2 separate regions of the Homo sapiens genome follow, and region 1 is linked to region 2. Evidence: fine-mapped expression QTL. Tissue or cell type: whole blood. Region 2 holds a variant in brackets; the other region holds the start of a gene. All regions are shown on one strand. Distances are from middle to middle.

Evidence for each region. PIP is the estimated chance that this variant, and not a neighbour inherited with it, causes the effect.
Region 1: DDX31 starts here. The variant in region 2 is fine-mapped to the expression of DDX31 in whole blood (TOPMed, PIP above 0.99).

What each region holds. Positions count from the first base shown.
Region 1 is chr9:132,664,256-132,674,361 of GRCh38, forward strand. DDX31 (DEAD-box helicase 31) reads right to left here and starts at 5,728. Exons shown (of 20, transcript NM_022779.9): 1 at 5,605-5,728. The coding sequence starts at 5,679. GTF3C4 (general transcription factor IIIC subunit 4) reads left to right here and starts at 6,209. Exons shown (of 5, transcript NM_012204.4): 1 at 6,209-6,700. The coding sequence starts at 6,344. RefSeq lists enhancers at 5,585-6,452, 6,138-6,217, 9,312-9,361 and silencers at 5,798-5,947, 6,368-6,497.
Region 2 is chr9:132,613,773-132,624,229 of GRCh38, forward strand. DDX31 (DEAD-box helicase 31) reads right to left here. Exons shown (of 20, transcript NM_022779.9): 18 at 4,558-4,669. Among named protein-coding and RNA genes, the nearest start is that of BARHL1, 36 kb to the left of the region's middle. The variant G/C (reference allele first, on the strand shown) is at 4,672.

The DNA.
Region 1 (10,106 bases), 50 kb after region 2:
TCTTTTCTTTCTTCTTTGGACTCAATATTTCAAACAGGACACAACTTTAGATCCTTTATCATCTTGGTCACCCTTTATTCCTATGTCAACATCTCTCTAAAAGCAAGTACTCAGAGTTAAACCCATTAGGTTTTCCATTGCTCTTAGGCTGAACTAAAAAATCTGTAATATTGCCAGGTGCCATGGATCATGCCTGTAATCCCAGCACTTTGTGAGGCTGAGGTGAGCTGATTGCTTGAGGCCAGGAGTTCGAGACCAGCCTGGGCAATATGGTGAAACCCTGTCTCTACAAAAAAATACAAAAATTAGCTGGGCATGGTGGTGCATGTCTGTAGTCCCAGCTACCTGGAGGCTAAGTTGGGGGCATCACCTGAGCCCGGGAGGTCAAGGCTGGATTGAGTCGTGATGACGCCATGATGCCACTGCTCTCCAGCCTGGGTGACAGAGTAAGACCCTCGCTCAAAAAAAAAAAAAAAAAAAAACTGTAATATGATCAACAAAGCCTTCTAGAATCTGACCTCTGGCCACCTCACCAGCTTCAGCTTTACTCTCTGCCACTCGGGTCTTCCTTCAGTTCCTAGAATGTGCTGTGCTCCTTCCTCCTCCTTTGCACATGCTACTCCCACATCCAGGACTCCACTCTGCCCTCTGGCTGGCCACCCTGTACTCATCCTTCAGATGGAGGCTGACCAACTCCTTCCTCAGAAGAGCCTTTCCTGACCTCTCTTCACCCAGTCAAGCCAAGGTGCTCTGTTCTTGGCTCTCCTGGCACCCGTATTCTCCTCCATAGCATTCGACAAAATAATAAGCATAGCACGGAACTCGTTGTTTTATGTCTGTCTTTCCCGTTAGATTGTAAGCTCCACAAGAAAGGGGCCAGTCTGTCCTACATAGCACTGTATCCCCTGTATAGGCCCCTGTCTGGCAGAGTAAGCACTCAACAAATACTTGTAAGATGAATGAATAACACACAATGGAATTATCCCTTTCCACCAGCTGGATACGGTTCTACTACTTGTTAGCTTTTCTCCCCCAGCATCCAAAACACATTCATTTAGCAGTTGTCAAGAAGCTTCGTTCTGAAGATACAAAGTAGATTTGCCAAGCCCTTGAGGAAGTTACACACTAGCAGAGGAGACAAAAGTATAAAGGCATAAATCCAACCTCTACATTGGTGCTACAGAAGAGGTACATAAAAAAGGCTATGAGAGCACCAACAAAAGCTAGACTAACATGGCCTCCTTCTGGCAAAGGAGAGGGAGGCAAGAAAACCAAGAATGCTTCGTGAGGTAGCCTCTGAGCAGAGAGGGAGCAAGGACATATCTGAATCTACTAAAAATTACTACTAAAAATCTAAAATCTACTAAAAATCTACTAAAAAATTCGTTTGAGTCTCTGTTGCCGCACCTGTAAAATGAGGGGATTTTGGCAGATGACCTCTAGGGCCCATCAAGACCTGAGAGTCTAAGATGCCATGGCTTTGATATTAATAAACATACTGAGTAGTTACTATATGCCAAGGAGTATACTAAGTACTCACATGTATTCTCTCATTTATCAACACAGGTACTGTTATCATCTCATTTTAAGATGCAAACATGGAGGCAGAGATGTGACGTAATTTGTCCCAGAATCACTGAAGGAACCAGGCTTTCCCCAGGCATCATGATTCTACATTCTAGAGGCCTCACAACAATACTATAATCCCTTTTATTAACTGCATCCTCTTTGCTTTAGAAAACATGTGTATGCTGGAAACTTACTCTTTCTGCTCAACATTATAGTTTTGCCTTGTATAGTCTTAATCCACATGGATTTGGTTTTTTATACATAGTGCGAGATAAGGTTCCAATTTCAGTTTTTAAATTCACACAACCACACAACCAATTGTTCCAGTGCCACTTATTAAAAATGTCAGCTTTTCCTAAGCAATTTGCAGTGTCATCTCGGTCATGAATAAAATTTCCATTTTTGTATTGGTCTGCTTCTGGGCTCTCTTTTCTCCTTTGCTGGTCAATTTGTACAGTTTTGCACCTTATTCCAGACTGTCTGAAGAAATAGAGCTTCATAATAATTCTTAATTTTTGATAAGTTAAAAAAAAAAAAGAAAACATCATGTGTAGTGATTCCAATTTTGAGTTGTTCTCTAAAAGGACATACACCAAAATGGCAACAAGCATTGTCTGAGTATGGCAATTATGAGTGGGTTTTTAAAAATCTTTTTTCCTAATTTTCTATAATAAATTTGTATTAATATCAGAAATTTTTTTTTGTTTTGCTTTTGTTTTGAGACAGTCTCACACTGTCACCCCAGCTGGAGTGCAGTGATCTCTGCTCACTGCAACCTCCACTGGTTCCTGGGTTCAAGTGATTCTCGTGCCTCAGCCTCCCGAGTGGCTGGGATCACAGGCACCCACCACCACACCCAGCTATTTTTGTGTTTGTTTTTTGTTTTTGTTTTTTTTTTTTGAGACAGAGTCTCGCTCTGTCGCCCAGGCTGGAGTGCAGTGGCGCAATCTCGGCTCACTGCAAGCTCCGCCTCCTGGGTTCACAGCATTGTCCTGCCTCAGCCTCCCGAGTGGCTTGGACTATAGTCACCCACCACCAGCCACCACACCCGGCTAATTTTTTGTATTTTTAATAGAGACGGGGTTTCACTGTGTTAGCCAGGATGGTCTCGATCTCCTGACCTCGTGATCCACCGGCCTCGGCCTCCCAAAGTGCTGGGATTACAGGCGTGAGCCACTGCGCCAAGCCTTTTTTTTGTATTTTTAGTAGAGATGGGGTTTCACCGTGTTGGCCAGGCTGGTCTCCAACTCCTGACCTCAAGTGATCTGCCTGCCTCGGCCTCCCAAAGTGATGAGATTACAGGTGTGAGCCACCTCGCCCAGCCCAGAAAGTATTTTTAGAGAGAAAATTTCTGCATAGTGTTAGATACAGCATAATTTAAGCTGTTAGTCTTTCTAAATCCAGTATATTAGCTACCCATCTCAAGTTCAGGCTACTGGCAAGTCTCATCAGCATATCCATCATTCTCATTCACGACATCAATGAAAATGTAGATCTAGGCCTGGCTGGCTCACGCCTGTAATCCCAGCACTGTGGGAGGCCGAGGTGGGCAGATCACAAGGTCGGGAGATGGAGACCATCCTGGCTAACACACAGTGAAACCCCATCTCTATTAAAAATTCAAAAAAATTAGCCGGGTGTGGTGGTGGGCACCTGTAGTCCCAGCTACTCAAGAGGCTGAGGCAGGAGAATGGTGTGAACTCAGGAGGCAGAGCTTGCAGTGAGCAGAGATCGCGCCACTGCACTCCAGCCTGGGAGACAGAGCGAGACTCCATCTCAAAAAAACAAAACAAAACAAAACAAAAAACGTAGATCTAGACAAGGCCACCGCAGACACCTGTCATCACTGCATTAATTAATCCCCTTTTGATAACCATAAAACTAGGTAGCCTATATGTATTTACTCAATGCTTCTTATGTGTTAGTTACCAGGCTCTGCAGAGGACACAAGCACCCCACTGACCTCCTGATGTAGCAATCTATTATCCAAAATGGAGCCAAAACTACTTTATACTGTTGGCATTTATTAAGTGCTTCTATGGGCCAGACAACGTATAGTCTTCATGTATACTATCTCAATGAATCCTTACAATAGTCTTCTATGGAGTAGAAATTATTGTTCTCATTTTATAGATAGGAAAAGTGAGAATCAGAAAGATTAAGTGACTTGCTCCAAGGTCACAGAGCTAGTGTGCAGCAAGGGCAGCATCCGAATCCCAAGTGTATCCTATTCCAAATCCCATGCTCCCAGTGGCTCTTCTATCCTTCTCCCCGCTCCACCCAGATGCAGCTACACTTGGCTAGCTGGACTCCTTACTGCCAAACATCTAAATCCTAAAGTTTGATGATCACTTTATGATTTTAATCAGTCTTTCTGTCCTGTAGTCCTCTTTTCTAAGAGACAAATCAACTATCCTAGAAACCAGTTTTCAGTTACTGCTTAAGTTAATTCTAGGGCATCTTACCCCTCTCTAGCAATGGGATTATATCAATGAAACCGATTTTCCTATCCCCCTCCATTGCATGGGGATGAAAATCTGTCCCATTTTTGAAAGCTCTTCAAAAAAACTCCTAGTTGCCAGTCCTCATTCCTGAAACAAACGAACCTTCCTCATGGCGACCAAAAGAGTTAAACTCAAAAATATCTGAAGAGACTTATTCTGAGCCAAGTATGAGTGACCATGGCCCATGATCCAGCCCTCGAGAGGTCCTGAGAACATGTGCCCAAGGTGGTCGGGGTGCAGCTTTTTTTTTTTTTTTTGAGACGGAGTCTCGTTCTGTTGCCCAGGCTGGAGTGCAATGGCATGATCTCGGCTCACTGCAAGCTCCGCCTCCTGGGTTCACGCCATTCTCCTGCCTCAGCCTCCCGAGTAGCTGGGACTACAGGCGCCCACCACCACGCCCAGCTAATTTTTTGTATTTTTAGTAGAGACGGGGGTTTCATCTTGTTAGCCAGGATGGTCTCGATCTCCTGACCTCGTGATCCGCCTGCCTCGGCCTCCCAAAGTGCTGGGATTACAGGCGTGAGCCACCGCGCCCGGCCGCGGCTTGGTTTTATACATTCTAGAGAGGCATGAGACATCAAATACATTTCAGAAATACACTGGTTTTGTCCAGAAAGGTGGGACAACTCAAAGCGGGGGCTTCCAGGCTATAGGTAAATTTAAACATTTTCTAGTTGACGGTTGAGTTTGTCTAAACACCTGGGATGGATACAAAGAAAATGCTCAGGTTAAGATAAAAGATTGTGGAGACCAAGGTTCTTTTCAAGTCTTTAGTGGCTGCCCTTAGAGACAACAGACAAGTGTTTCCTATTCAGATCTTTGAAAGGTGGTAGACTCTTAATCTCTTTAGGATTGGGAGGGCCTGGAAGAAAAAGATCTAGCTATGTTAATAGAGATTCTTTGCAGATGCAAATGTCCACCCCGCCCGCCCCCCCCAAAGAACAGCTTTGCAAAGCCATTTCAAAATGTGGCAAAGAAACATGTTTAGGGGTAATATTTTAACTTTCTTCTTTGTCACATAATGTTAGGCCAGAGCCAGTTTGGAAAGTAAGTCACGATATATAGGGTTAAATGAAAGCCATCTGATGAGAATTTATGGTTTGTAGGGCATGACTCTTCCCAGACAGGAATGTGGGCAAGATAAAAAAAAAAATCAGAGCTTAGTCCGCACTCAGTCGAGGAAACTGGCTTAGAGAAGTTAAGCTTTGGCCTGGGACTTGCGCCGGAACTTCAGGTCCTACCTTCCACGGGAAACAGCCTCTAATTCCTTCCTTTACTTTTCTAGGCGCAGGAGCCAGCTCCCCGCCCCTCCACACCGCTCCACTCCCCGCTTCCAGGCGCATCCCTGCGGGTGGTGTTCCGGTTAGAGACACGTGTTTCGGCGCAACTTGTCCCGAAGCTGCCCGGTGTCTTTCTCCCGCTTAACTCCGTGAATGACTCGAAACCCGACTCCAAGGCACGGCTGCAGCTCGCGGCGCGCCCACAGCCGGGCCGCGGGTGGGGACGGAGCTGAAGCCGGGTCAGAACTCACCCGACTCGCCTGGGCTGGGGGACGTCTGGAGAACGTCCTGGGGTTGTCGAAGAGCGAACCGTCGGCGGCTGCCATGGTCTGCGTGGGTGACGCGTGGTGCAGCAGCGAGCCCGGTGCGCAGACTGCTGGGCCCGGGACCCCACGTGGGACGCGCGAGGACCCTGCGCCACCGCCCCTTCCGGGTCCGGAACGGCTCCAGCTGTACGGACTCGTCCCGAGGGGAGCCGGGGACGGCGGCACCGGGCGGGTAGGGACAAGACTACCGCGCGTGCCCCCGCCTGGTGGCAGCCCCTCTCTGCGTCCCTCGCGGCCTGGCAAAATTACATTCGGCCGAGAGTTCACGCTGGGGAAGCTCTCTGAATGCCTCTGAGAAGCGAGATCCGGCGCCATCTCACCGACGAGCCTCCCCTTTACCGCCCCGTGCGTTTCCTCAGCACTTTAGGAACTAAAGCCTGTCTGGGTAGCTCCCTAACAGGCTCTGGAGCTCAATCCCTGGGCAGGGAAAAGGGGGTCCTCGGGGCTCCCCGCTCGCTGTCCTTTTTCTGGACAGGCAGTTCCTTGGCCACCTGGTAGGGCCGCGTTGCCTGGCAACGGCGGGGTCCTTCTTGGCTCGGCGGCGCTCGGGGCCTGAGGGGAGAAAACCGCCGCGGAGGGCGCTGGGGGTGGCGGCGGCGGTCCGGGAGGTGGTCGCGCGACTGCGTGGAGCGCCAGGGCGTCCGACCTCTGCACCTGAGAGAAGATGAACACGGCCGACCAGGCCCGGGTGGGGCCCGCGGACGACGGGCCTGCGCCGTCTGGGGAGGAGGAGGGAGAGGGGGGCGGCGAGGCGGGCGGGAAGGAGCCAGCAGCGGACGCGGCCCCGGGGCCCAGCGCTGCATTCCGCCTCATGGTGACTCGGCGGGAGCCGGCCGTGAAGCTGCAGTATGCGGTGAGCGGCCTGGAACCGCTGGCTTGGTCCGAGGACCACCGCGTGTCTGTGTCCACGGCCCGCAGCATCGCTGTGCTGGAGCTCATCTGCGACGTGCACAACCCGGGCCAGGACCTGGTTATCCACCGCACCTCGGTGCCCGCACCGCTCAACAGCTGTCTCCTCAAAGTAAGTCATCCCCCGCCATCCCTGGGGTCTTCCCCTGTCCCCCTCTCGCGGCCGCATCATCCGTCCCAGGGGAATCCGATCCCACACTCTGTCCGGGGATTTCCCTCTTCGCACCGAGCGCTGGGGATTTATTAAGCAGCCAGGGTTACCACAGCTTAAAAAAAAAAAAAGAAAAGCTCTGCAGCTGTCTGCACCCTGTTTCCCCAGGTCACCCGCCGCCGCAAACACAGGTACACACCCAGGGGGCTTCCCGGAGTTGAGTCCCAGGAACCCCTCCTTCGCCCCTCCGTCGGGCCCGCACATGGAGCGGGTTACTCGATGGTGCTTTCTGAGACTCCACCCCCTGTAGATCCAACCCGGGGCCTGCCTCTGTCGTTGCTGCTATTGTTTGGGGCCGACTTTCCGAGGTTCTTGGCTGGCTTTGTCTACTGTGTGTGTCCTCCTCTCGCGCCTCTTTAGCTTCAGAAAAGAAAAACTGGTCCCATCCATTGTCTTAATTGTTTCAGTGACTTTATTATGAATGGTCCTCGCCTCTCCTTGGGCAAACGGGTAAATACTGGATCTCGGGGTTTGTACTTTAGTTTTTCTTTACTAGCTAAACATCTTTGGGATGTTGAATGAAAATAAAGATTCGAAACAACTACCTATCTTAAACTTCAAGCGCAAGGTCAAGTAGTAAGCCATAGCGTTCCTTTTAGTTGCTTAGAGGTGTAAAAACTTTCCATATATCCTTGATAGAGGTGTACGCTTACATGTGAACTGTCAGTGTATATTCATACATTCAATAGATATTTGAATACCATTCTGCTTGGTGCTGCCCCATGTTCTGGAAATAAAGCAGTGTACAAAACAGAACCCCTGCCCTCATGAAGCTTACATTCTTTGGCAAGTCAAGCACAAATGATAAGGTCCTGTCAGGTAGTGATAAGCACTGTAAAGATGTGTATCCGCACATAGAGAACATGTTTATGTGTTCGTAAACTCTTATTTTGGAAAACCATTGAAAATATGAGTCATTAGCTATAGGTAGGGTGCAGATAACCCTCATCACTTTGTAGCATACTTAATTCAAGTTTCAAACATCTTTCTGTTGTTAGATTGTTAGTCAGCTTGTATGACTAAGCTTCCTCTAAGATCTTCTTGAAGAAGATATGAACACATTTGTTCAAGTGTAAACAAATCAGATAGACAGATGCAACCCTATGAAATTGAGAAATACAAAAGGAGGGAGGCAGAAGAAAGGTGATTTAAAAGGTGTATCTTCTGCTGTAAAGGAATTTAACTGTTTCCAAGGATGTTCATCCGCACAGCAACTCAAGGAAAGTATGTATGTCAGTATAGTAGACATCGAATACCTTAGCAGAGAGAATGTAAAGAAAGGAGGGAGTAGTAAGGGGAGAGACTTATGGGGCAGGTCATCTGGTGGTGAATCTGCAGCAGTCCTAAAGAAGGTAGTGTTTGGTTTGTAAGAGGAAGGAAGGAAAGGGCATTCCAGGCGGCAGGAATGAGGCATTCATCCCATGTGCATACACGTTTAAGTCATGAACATAATTAATTATTGTTTGTATAATGACGGATCAGTACATGAGCTCAAGTAGGTCTTCTAGAGAGTCCGAGAAAGTAAGATGAGACCAGTTTGTGGACTTGGAAGGTCGGTATGAGGAAGTTGGCTTCAATCTAGGAAGTCTTTAAGATGCTGTTACAGTTTCATTAGCATAGAGTGACCTGCTGTGGTTCAGGAACATTACTGGATAGAGGCAAGAAGATGATTGTTGTGATCAGTGTAAAATAAAAGTGAAGAGACTGGGCTTTGGCACAAGATAGGCCTATCTATAAAAGGGGGATAATGAAGCGTTGTTTAGGTTTTTTGGAAGATTAAACACACATAATCACTTGGCCCAGTTCTTGGCACGCTGTAAATGCTCAAGGTGAAAATATAATGAGTTGGGCCGGGCGCGGTGGCTCACGCCTGTAATCCCAGCACTTTGGGAGGCCGAGGCGAGCGGATCACGAGGTCAGGAGATCGAGACCATCCTGGCTAACACAGTGAAACCCCGTTTCTACTAAAAATACAAAAAATTAGCCGGGCGTGGTGGCGGGCGCCTGTAGTCCTAGCTACTGGGAGGCTGAGGCAGGAGAATGGCGTGAATCCGGGAGGCGGAGCTTGCTATGAGCCAAGATTGCGCCACTGTACTCCAGCCTGGGCGACAGAGCCAGACTCCGTCTCAAAAAAAAAGAAAGAAAATATAATGCAGTTATACAGGTATGAAGGAGTAGGAGTCTGGATTAATGTCGTGGTTGTGGACATGAGTATTCTGATAAAATTTTGACTGTCATTTTGCCTCAGTTAACATTTACCACAACTGCTAACTAGTAACAGGAAATCCTTATATAGCTCTCTTATAGTTGACAAATGGCTTCTATGAAATTAATTAGTAACATCTTCCCCTTCTGTACTGTTGTTTTTTTTTTAATATGCACATCACATAAACCATCAGTCATTTAGCAGTCTTTTTAGACTGATTGAAGTGAATGAATGCTGAGTTGACCCTGCAGTTCTACAAGAGCCCTCTGTGGGTTAAAACTGGTGTGACGGTAGGAATGTAAAGAAGTCTGTGTCAGCACTTTGATGACTCCACCCATTGGCAGTCTGTGGATTTAAATCTGCTCGGTGCCGTGCAGCATGCCTTCGCGCTAACCTAAATGGTGGACAGTCTGCAGCGCAGATGACAGTTTTAGTGTAGCACTGTTAGAAAGCTAGGTACTAAACACCTTTGAAGCTTTTGCTCTATAATTCTGTTATTTAGATTATGAATTTGCAGGAAAATCTGCAGTTATGTAATAGTTCAGACATTAATTATCAGCTGTTTTATAAGATTGTATGATATAAAGGTGGACAGTATAAATCTGAAAAGCAATGAAATAGTGATTTAAGAATGTCAGAATTGTTTTTCCCATTGGACTACTGATTTAGTGACTCATCTAGTGAGACATTTGTGTATAGTTCCAAATTCTGATAATATTTGTGTACCGAATTGTATTGTGCATCAATTGTTAGGAGCCTTAGAAAGTATTAACTTCATCTGCTACATTAAGTTAAATAACTGTTGCCTGTCTTTGGACTCTATTACCTGTCCTCAAGAAGCTTACTGTCTAAAAGCTTCAAGTGAATTTTTGTCAGGTGCTTACAAAATGCCTAACAGTTAGTATTAAAAGTATTTGCCATTAAAAGTGATGGTGAAAACCGCAATTACTTTTGCACCAACCTAATAGTGGTCAACTGGAAACTGGATGGTGTACAATTAAATGATTGGCTGCGGGCAGGCCTCTGGGAGCTGGACTTTTTAAGTATACTCCTTGGGCATCTGAATACTTGATTTGTTAACAGTTTTGTGATAGGGAGAGT
Region 2 (10,457 bases):
TCATTCCCAGGAGGGTGGAGCTTTGGTCTACTTAACTAGGCATTCCCTTGAGGAAAGATTCTCGTAGATTGAATATCTGGAAGTAACAATGAAAATCAAGTGTCCACCCGCTTCTCACTCCAACAAGGAAGGAGGGGGACATCCTGCAAACACTCCCCGCCATCCCTGTCACTGCTCTCTTCACCTCCAATCCTGCTCTTCTGCCAGCTGAGCCAGAGCCCAGCCGATGGTGTCTGATGGAGGCAAGCACTGAATGCCAGCCTTCGCTTCCTCACTCTCCTTGTTGAGCCACTGGACTGGCAAGTTTGCCCACAGCTTAAACATAATATCCCAGCAGCACCTGGAGATTGGCGTTTATGAACAGTAATAAAAAGTGTCATTTTAGCAGATCAGCTCCTGGAAGGATCCTGGGGAATCCATCAAAGCTCTATTTACTGAGTAAAGTGAACTCCTTTTCCCAATCGATGAGCAATAATAACCAAGGCAACTCCTCTGTACCCTACTCTTAAATCTGTGCTTACTCCCCTTTTTAATAACTAGGGACTTTTTCAAAGAAAATCTTTAACGCTTCAAATGGTCTGTACTGTTTGGAGTACACAGAGCCCCACTAGATACAGAGCCCCACAGCCAAGCCCTCAGAGGGAAAGGCTCTACTGCTACGCGACCCAGGAGATTCAAGCCTCTTCTCCTCAACCTTTCTTTCCCCAACCCCCAACACTCACTCTGGTCTCAAAAAAGACAAGACCGAAACCAAGTCAAGCCGAAACCATGCCAAGAGCCTGCACTTTTAAAATCTCAGTTACCCAAATCCCGCTCTAGGTCTCTTCATTTCCTACCTCTCTTCTGTGTATGCAGATGAGTCCCTGGGCTTCCACCCTGGTCACCTCTCTTCCTCTCCTCCTCTCCACCAATCCTATGAGCTGAGCACTGAGAGCATCTGTCCCAGGAGATGTAGGTGCCCAGCTAACAGCTTTACAGGGATAATGAGTTTGCCAAGATGTGGCAGGAAGTGTTTTCTCCCCAGACAACTGGCCAGGCAGCATTTCACACTGCATATTTTTACTAAACCTCCTTGTCCTCAAGGCTCCTGTCTCACCGGGGACAGCGACAGTTGGTTGTTCTCACATACTTGCATGGACTCCCATGTTTGGATAATTCAGAGAAGCAGGAATTTCAAAGACGCTGCAGTAGCTGTCTGCAGAACCTTTCAAGGAGCAGGAAGTGCTCATGTTGGCAGCGTCGAGAATGTGCAGAAGGAACAGGGGCTGTGGGACCCACACAAGCGGAAGGTGGAGAAGTAATGAAAGCAGACATTTATTTGGGGTGACGGATGAAGCTACAGGCCACCAGAGTTCAGCACTTTGCAGTCACTGATTCCTATTTCTTGCCAACTACTTAAGGTGCCTGAATTAGGGCAAATCTATTTTCAAGTATCTCACATGGACACATCGTCCTTTTTCATTCCTGGACATTTGGATCAGAAACTAGTGGTATCTTATGATGACTTGTAAGATGAAGGAGACAGAAATAAACAAACCTCCAGCCTGGAAGGTGAAGATCATCTCTGCTCCTCCCAACCCCACCTCCACTCCCACAAGAGCACCCTTCAGTACAGAATAAAGGCACACGCATCTTCAAGACCACCCAACACCTACAGCGACAACTACGGAAAGGATGGAGGAAAAGGAGGTTCCCTGCTGTTCTCTTCAAGACAAAGCATTTGGTAAAGTGCCCAGCCTAGCTCTGACCCCACTGAGGGGAGAAGAATGACTTGTCATCACTGGTGTGGGTTTTCTAGACTTTGAGAAGCATCCCTTCCAAACAGGCATAAATCCTACATGGAGTTCCTGGTCTGCAGGAAGACCTGAAGATGGAGAGGATTAAGCCACAGAAGCAATGGTCATTTGCAGGCAGAGGACTCTAGCTTCCAAGATTTTTGTTCGGGAATCTGGAATTCAAACTTATGTTACCACTCGTTTTACAACTTGAATCCCTAGCTAAATGATGCAAGAAAACAGAGGAAAAAAGGGGTAACTGCTTCTGGAAACTGACAGTTAAATGCTGGTTATTAACAATGACTGGGTCCAAAAATGCAAAAGGAAAACAAATACATACTTGGCCCAGTTTCTAACTAGTTTTCTGCCATCAAGGCAAAAGCCAGCTGCTTTGTTAATTATTCAGGAGGTGGGTTCTGAAATGGCATAAAAGGGAAGCAAGTCAATAGTGGGGAATTTGCATATGCAGATTGAAATGCAAAAGAGTGTCTCCACCTATGGGGTGCAGTGGCTGTTCCTATGCAGTAAATTCAATACATTTAGGGTGGCAAATACGTGTATACTCTCTCAAGCCTCCAAAACTCAGTCCTAAGAAACAGGAGAGAAGGAATGGTGGCGAGACTTATGTCTGAAATGGGGTGACTGAGCTCTGTAAGAGGCGGTGTTGTCCCAGCCCATTATCAATCTGGTGTGGAAATTGATTAGCAAATAAGAGACATGATACGTTTATTTCCTTCATGGTACATAAACATTGGGAAGTGACCCTGTTCCAATATTCCTTAAACAAAAGACAAGTGACCCTGCTTGTTTCATGGTATTAACAAGTTCAATGGTAATAACAGTGAAAGAAAACCCAAAACCACATCCTTTAAGAATTACTGTAACTTCCACTCAGATGACCGAGACACCTTGAAATAGTTGTAGTCTTGCCAAAATATCTGAGGCATCACTGACACCAAAATCGAAGGTGACAGTGTGGGTTTGATTTATTTCTTTCCACTGCAACTTTGATACCAGCCCTGGAATTCAGCAGCACAACACCTTGTTATGTACTGCACAGCCAGCTGAATTTGCCTAACTTTCATCAAAGGTCCAAACTGTAAAGTTACACTGTGACAAAGACCCTATTCCTCTTGAGAGACACAGAGCAATACTCCTCTAGAGGTAGCAAGGTAGGAAAACCCTTGGGAATTGTTGAATTCCCTTTAGGGAAATGCCAAGACAGGATATTATTAGAGAAAAGTCTAGAAGGATATACAATGGCAATTACGGGGACTTCATCTTTTACCTTGTGTGGTTCTGATTTTTAACGACAACCAAGAATTGCAATTATAATGTGCTAAAGGTATGTAACAGGTCCTTGACAATATTTGCTGACTAACCCATTTTTTCATCTATATTTTCTGGTGACCACAATTGCTCCTCAGCCAGGCTCCCAGCTTTCACACTTGCCCCCGCTAGAGTCTATTCTCACACAGCAGCCAGGTGATCTCTTTCAAACCTAAGTCAGATCCCACACTTCTGCTCCCCCTTCATTCCGACCAAGACCCAAAGTCCTACGTGATTCTGCCTTGGCCAGCACCCCCTTTCCACCCACACTGCCTTCCTCGAGCTCGTCTGCACCAGCTCCCACTGCCCAGAATGCCCTTCCTTTAGAGAGCCACGGGGCTCATCCCACTTCAGGTTTTTGCTCAAGTATCACCTACACAATGAGGCTCACTCTGACCCCATTAAAAATGCACTCTGCTATGTCACCCCTTCACCTCCCCCATCTCCTTCTACTTATTCCATAGCTCTTGTCACCTTTAAATGGACTAATCTGTTATGTTTATTATGTTCACTGTCTGCTGCCCCTGCACCCCACTAACATGTTGGCTTCACAAAGCAAGGATTTTTGTTTTGATCTCGCATGCATTCCAAGCACTCAGAATAGTGCCCGATTTGATAAATATTTGTCAAATGAATGGTTTTTAAAGCATTTCTATTTATAAAAAGAAAGGATGCTACAGTGTTCCGATATTGGTAAGCCAGCCTGGCACTCTTCTCAAAATAGCAGGCAACTAACAAAAAAACCCTGTGCATACTCCAGCATGGAGTAAGTCTCATTAGACATGGTCAGTCTCTGGCCAAGACATCCCATGATAAAAAGTACCAGTGATTACAAACCCCCTTCAGCCATACACTGCTTATTACTCAACGTGAACTGTGAAGTCTACATCTAATGTATGGTGATCCCAGGAGCCAACTTATCCAACAAAGGGTCTGAATATTAAGTCAACACCTCTCTCTTTCATAAATTTCCTAGGAATTGGGTTCATGGTCTATGGCTCTTCCTCAGTACTGTTCTTTCTCGTTTTTCTTTGTGCCTTCAAATAGGAACTGCTTAGGTCTAATATTTCCAGCTCTGGCCTTCATCTCTAATTTCCATCTCTACAACTATTTCTACTAACGTGTCACATGTCTTCTATCTGGTTTTCAAAGAAAGAGGAAAACAGATCCTTAAGATCCAAGTTGTTGGGTCAAAACTCTAGTCCCGATATAAGCCAAGATAAAGCCTCATTTGTGCAAAACATGGGGAAGGATGAAATTAACATTTAATATCACTTTAAAGCCTTCCGTGCCTGCTTCCAAACCCTGCAGAATTATGGAGATTGAAGGCTTTGGCTGGTGAGCAGGGACCTCCATGTTGGCCTCTCAACCGGTTTGGGGGTATGTGGGTGAAGGTGGGGGAGAGCACTCTGCTGGGCTATCCACTGCGCAAGCACCTAGGAAATCGACTGACCTTTCTTTGCCCAGGAGACCCTCCTCTCACTGGAGTGCACGTAATCTTCAAATACCGTCTGCAAGACTGTGGCTCGCTCTCGGATTTCCTGGGGGCCAACAGCATGGGATTTCT[G/C]AGAGGGCGACGGAAGGATTAAAGGAGAGATAGAGTCAAGGTCAGGAATAATGAAGCAGTTTATAATAGATTTAATAACAGTAAAATCACACAGTAACCACCTAGGGCCAACAAGGGTAATCCTTTCAATATTACTAGGAAAAAAGGGAGCTATAGAGATGTCAAAGTCAAGTAAGGATGAGGGTGGCTTTATGAGAGAGAACATCAGGTCTGTTTACTTATTTACTTACTTTTCTTCCTGACCTCTTACCATGCATGTTCAAAATCAAAGACCATTGGAGACACTTTGGAATTTTCCAAGTCCAATTCAGACATTTAAAACATCACTGAACATGAGCTGTTTTCAAATGGGTCTTGGATCTCCTAGGAATCTTCACCTTTCCCTCACGCGCATCAGTGGAACACCGACAATTTCTCTTCATGAGCACTCCACAGTGACCTGCCTAACATTCTGCTTTTAAAAGTTACCCCATCCTTGAATTTCAGAGCAGGCTTCCTCAGTGCCTAGAGCGGTTCAGACTTCTAGTGTTTCAAATTTATTCCTCCAGCCCATGGCCACTGTGGCCAGGAACCTATTAAGGAGTGAGTGGGCTGTTCCAGGACAACACACTCAAAGACTGCCTGGATCTTTGCAGCAAATCGTCCCTGTGTAAGAAGTAGCATCTGTGTGCATGCAAAGAGCCTACAGATGGAAAATGTTAATAAAATAGACAATTATTTTCTTTTCATCCTTTAACAGTACCAGAGAAAAAAATTTCCTTTTTAAATATCCCCGCTAAAAACTAGTGGCTTTTGTCTCCAATATCGTAAAACAAACATGAGTGCTTTCTACTGAATGTGAAATCAAGAGAACACAGATTCTTCCACCCAATGAGGCCAACCTGCCAAGTGACACTGATCACTTGAGTGGTGCTAGTGCCTCTACTTCCACCTGCCACCCTGGTGTGAACCCCCGGGGAAAATCCAGAGTGAGACCGGGTCGTGCTGCTTAACCTTGTAGAGGACGGTGTATGAGCGCCTGCATCTGGCCTCACTAAGACTCCCTGAGCCTCTCTTTCACCTTTAAGGCTGACAGAGGAAGAACAAAGGGGAGGAAAGAAAAAGCCTCATTCTCTGGATCGACGTTCATCTCTATATTAAGAGACTTAACAACGTGAAAATGTTTTTAGTTTAGTCAAATCATTCCTGCTACCTGTTTGGTTGATGACAGTCTCGCTGATTTCACAGTTCAATACAAGGTCCCCCTAAGGGTTCTATCCGCTAAAATGTCAGGAGAAGAGTCACTCAGGAGCCGTGTTACCAAAGTGGACATTTGCTATTGTCATTAACAAGGATTTTTTTTTTTTTACCCTCTTAACTGATGTGAAATGCAAACTTTTTTTTGCTGCCCTCCTTTCGTTAAGCCACCTCAGCAGCGCAACTGTCACCTTCCCTGTGTTTTTTTTTTTTTTTAATATGAATGTGAAATTAGCGAGGATGCCCTTTCCCCTGGCGGACAGAATCCTCTGTTATTAAAAAGTAAAGCACTTTAATAATGAAAACTTTTTCCTCTTTTTCTTGTGTTTTAACTGTTTAAAATTAATGAGAAGGGCAGAATGGTTGTCAAAGCAATATTGAAAGCCGGGCAGCCAGGACCGAATAAGCACAAAAATCCCTCTAGAGTGTTAAATAAACAGAGCTCCAGCCCTCTCCGAATCCCTCTGTTGGTTATTGTATACATTCTGTAACAGCTCTCAGAATAGATCTGAGAGCCAGGGAGGCAGAGAGGTTTCAGAATTCCAATAAAGGCCTCAAATTAAAGACAGCCTGGTGCGAATTCCAGGAGAAAATTAAAGAGACCTCAAGCTTAAGTGACAGGTGACTTGCTTCTGTGTCACAACTGTCAGGGGATTTAGTGATAATATGGCAATATATTACAAAGGGCTTTTCTTATTCCCCCCTTTAGGTTTCAAAATGAGGCATCTTTTCTTCCCAACCAAAAAAAAAAAAAATTACATATATATAATGTGAGTGTGTATACAAGCGAAATACGTAGGGAAAAAAAAAACAGGATAGAACTAGGTTCACAGGTTTGAAATGATAAGGTCAGTTTTAGTAAAATATAAGAAAAAGTTAATGGCAGAAAAAAATATATACAATACTTAGGAAAAAAAAAATCTTACTCCTCCCTAACCCCTGCTTCCAGAAATACCTTATTTTAAAATTGCCCCTCTTGAGAATGAATGAGGTATTTTTCAGTTGTCTTCTGGGGAGGACAGTCTAAATTTAAACTGAAGACAGAGGGGGGCAGAGTTATGCAGCACCATCTCAGCCCCCGACAGGTAAAATGCTCCTATAATGAGAGCGGGTCAAACCCCTGAGGGCACATGGATACCTGGCAGGGCTGGCTCTCCCACCCTCCAAGACACAGAGTCAGTACTGGTTAATGAAGCTAACTTCAACTAGTGGACCATGGGTAGTTTAGAAAAACACATTTCCAACCATCCATCCGCACGCAATGCACCTTTGTCTCTAACATCCTACTGATCTTGGAAAACACAGGCCATCAGAAAGGATGAGCAGGGGGCTCTGAACTTATTTTAAGATCTCGCAATGCCAGCAACGGCTCCTTTGTTGGGATAAGTTTACAGGTATATTTCACAGGACAAAAACGCTTGTAGGAAAAACATGGTTGGGTGTGTGTATACTTTGATGATGAAGATTTCACACCTATCAAGAAGCAACAGATGAGTCTAAGATAAATAGGCTGGACTATTTTTATTATAAAAAGTAATAGCAAAGGTGGGAGGTTTTTGTGAAAGCCTGCACCTTGATATTGCCAACTTCCAAGGTATTTTTAAGCAAAATGGAAGGGTTTTGTTTTAATCACTTTATTGCCAAGCTGAGTTTTACCCCCATGGTCCCTAGAACCTTCTGAGTGCTTCCCAGTAAAGTTGAAAGATCAAATTTATTCTCTTTGTAGGTAGGTGAACATTCACACACCCAGACATAGCTATATATGTTTTATATACCTAAATATGAAATATACATTTTACAGATGCTTCACTCGCTTTCTTTCTGTTCACAGAAGCCCAAAAATGTATGTGCCAAAGGGACATTTACCATGGGCTTCAATCACGCTGGGTGAAGGAGAGGGGCACTGTAATGAGGTGTCTGGCTATCTGAACGAAAGGCCTAGCTACTGAACCCACATTTACATGCCTGGCATTAGTTCACATGCTAGAGAACTGCTCAAATTGAGGACAGCAATTAAGACACACGTTATTTCTTACGCATAACAGATTTAAAAGTTGTATCCAGCATCTACTTTATTCTTCTTACTACTGACATGAATCACACATAAAATACTCTCTCGGGTTGTGTATATCTATGTGATAATTAGTAACACAGTCAATTTAGTTTAGTTTTTCTTTTTCCTCTGAATTCAAGTTAAACTTGGCTCAGCAAGCCAGGTCTTCACCAACATGACACCTACAACGTAGGATGGTTAATTTAGCTTTCTAAGTTAACCAGTTATATCATGAAAGCCCAAACTTACTCAGCTTTTCTTAAAAAAAAAAAAAAAAAAAATCACCAAACCTTAAAAATATCCAAGCATTCACTACTGTCTATCAAGGTAGGAGCTGGGGCTGAGATCATGAGACAGAGTTTCTAGACCTAAGAATCTATGAGGTCTGGAACTCTACAGGGCACTTTATACCTCGTTTTATTTAAATCTCACAGCAATTGTATGTTTTACAGATGGGAAAACTGAGACTGGGGAGAAGATAATCTGCCTGAGATTGCAGAGCTAACAGCTGGGAAGCAAGGATTCAAACTCAAACTCATATCTATCTGGGACCTGGCTCTTACTCATGAAGTTAGAGCCACTCCTCAAGTCTCAGGAAGTCCTTGAGGCTGGCCTCAAGCCAGGGAAAGTCTTAAGGAGAAGAATTTATGCTGCAAGGCCACAGAAGGGCAGATGCTACCAAAAAAAAACGACTGTAGCTTGTTGCTGACAGAGTGGAGGGAGATGCAGCTGCTCCGCTCCTTCTCTGGGGACGTGTCCTTCAGGAGAGGCTTCCTGCCCTTCTACAGCTTCCCTGCGTTGCGCAGACACACAGTGATCAACTCCCTGGAGAGAAATGATCTGCACTCGGGGATAAAGACTGACACCAATGCCAGGCCCAGAAAGAGTATACCTGAGACGACGTTTGATCAAACTTACTATCTCATTGTGTAATTGTACTACTTGCCTTTATTTCTAGAGAGCTGGCAGATGCTAATGTTCCACTTATTATGATACAGCAAAAAAGGGCACTGGGATTCATGTCCCTGAGTCTGGGCTTTAATTCCACATCTGCTACTAACTTGTATGACTACAAATAATCCTGATAGTTACAGTAATAATAAAAAATGCCCTTTGGGCCGCGTGTGGTGGCTCATGCTTGTAATCCCAGCACTTTGGGAGGCCAAGATGGGCAGATCACCTGAGGTCAGGAGTTTGAGGCCAGCCTGGCCAAGATGGTGAAACCCCGTCTCTACTAAAAATACAAAAGTTAGCCGGGCATGGTGGTGTGTGTCTGTAATCGAGCTACTTGGGAGGCTGAGGCAGGAGAATCGGTGGAACCCAGGAGGCAGAGGTTGCAATAAGCTGAGGTCACGCCAGTGCATTCCAGCCTGGGAGACACAGCAAGACTCCATCTCAAAAAAAAAAAAAGCCCTTTGGTCCTATGTTTTATACTTGGGACTCCAGGACTATTTCCCACACAATCCTCTGACGTCCTTAAAAGAACACTATTTTATCTCAACTTTACGTGCGAAGAAACTGAGGCTTAGAAAGGTCCAGTCCAGGCCGGGTGCAGTGGCTCATGCCTGTAATCCCAGCACTTTGGGAGGCTGAGGCGGGCGGATCACAAAGTCAAGAGATTGAGACCATCCTGGCCAACATAGTGAAACCCCGTCTCTACTAAAAATACGAAAATTAGGTGGGCATGGTGGCATGCGCCTGTATTCCCAGCTACTTGGGAGGCTGAGGCAGAACTGCTTGAACCTGGGAGGCAGAGGTTGTAGTGAGCCAAGATCGTGCCACTGTACTCCAGCCTGGCGATAGAGCGAGACTCCATCTCAAAAAAAAAAAAAAAAAGAAAAAAAAAAGAAAAAAGAAAAAAGAAAGGTCCGATCACAGGCTGGTGACAGATGAGGAACGTGACCCTGAGGCGTGCTCTTAGCCACTCTGCTACACTGCCTCTCCGAAAAGAAACTAAGGCTTAGAGAGGTCCAGTCCCTGCCCAAGGTCACACACTGGTGACAGATGAGGAACATGACCCTAAGGCCATGCTCTTAGCCACTCTGCTACACTGCCTCCTCCAACAGATCCACATCTGCTCCCTGCTGATCCCACAGAGCTGCCCTGGAGCCATAATGAAGTATCTGGGGGAACATTAAAAAAGAAACCAAAAGGCCGGCTACGGTGGCTCACACCTGTAATCCCAGCACTTTGGGAGACCAAGGCGGGTGAATCATGGGGTCAGGAGTTCGAGACCAGCCTGACCAACATGGTGAAACCCTGTCTCTACTAAAAATACGAAAAAATTAGCTGGGCGTGGTGGCATGTGCCTGTAGTCCCAGCTGCTCAAGAGGCTGAGGCAGAAGAATCACTCGAACCTGGGAGGCAGGGGTTGCAGTGAGCCAAGATCGCGCCATTGCACTCCAGCATGGGCGACAGAGCGAGACTCCGTCTCAAAAAAAAAAAAAAAAAAAAAAAAAAAGAAGAAACCAAAAAAGCCCCTTAACTAGAATTTATG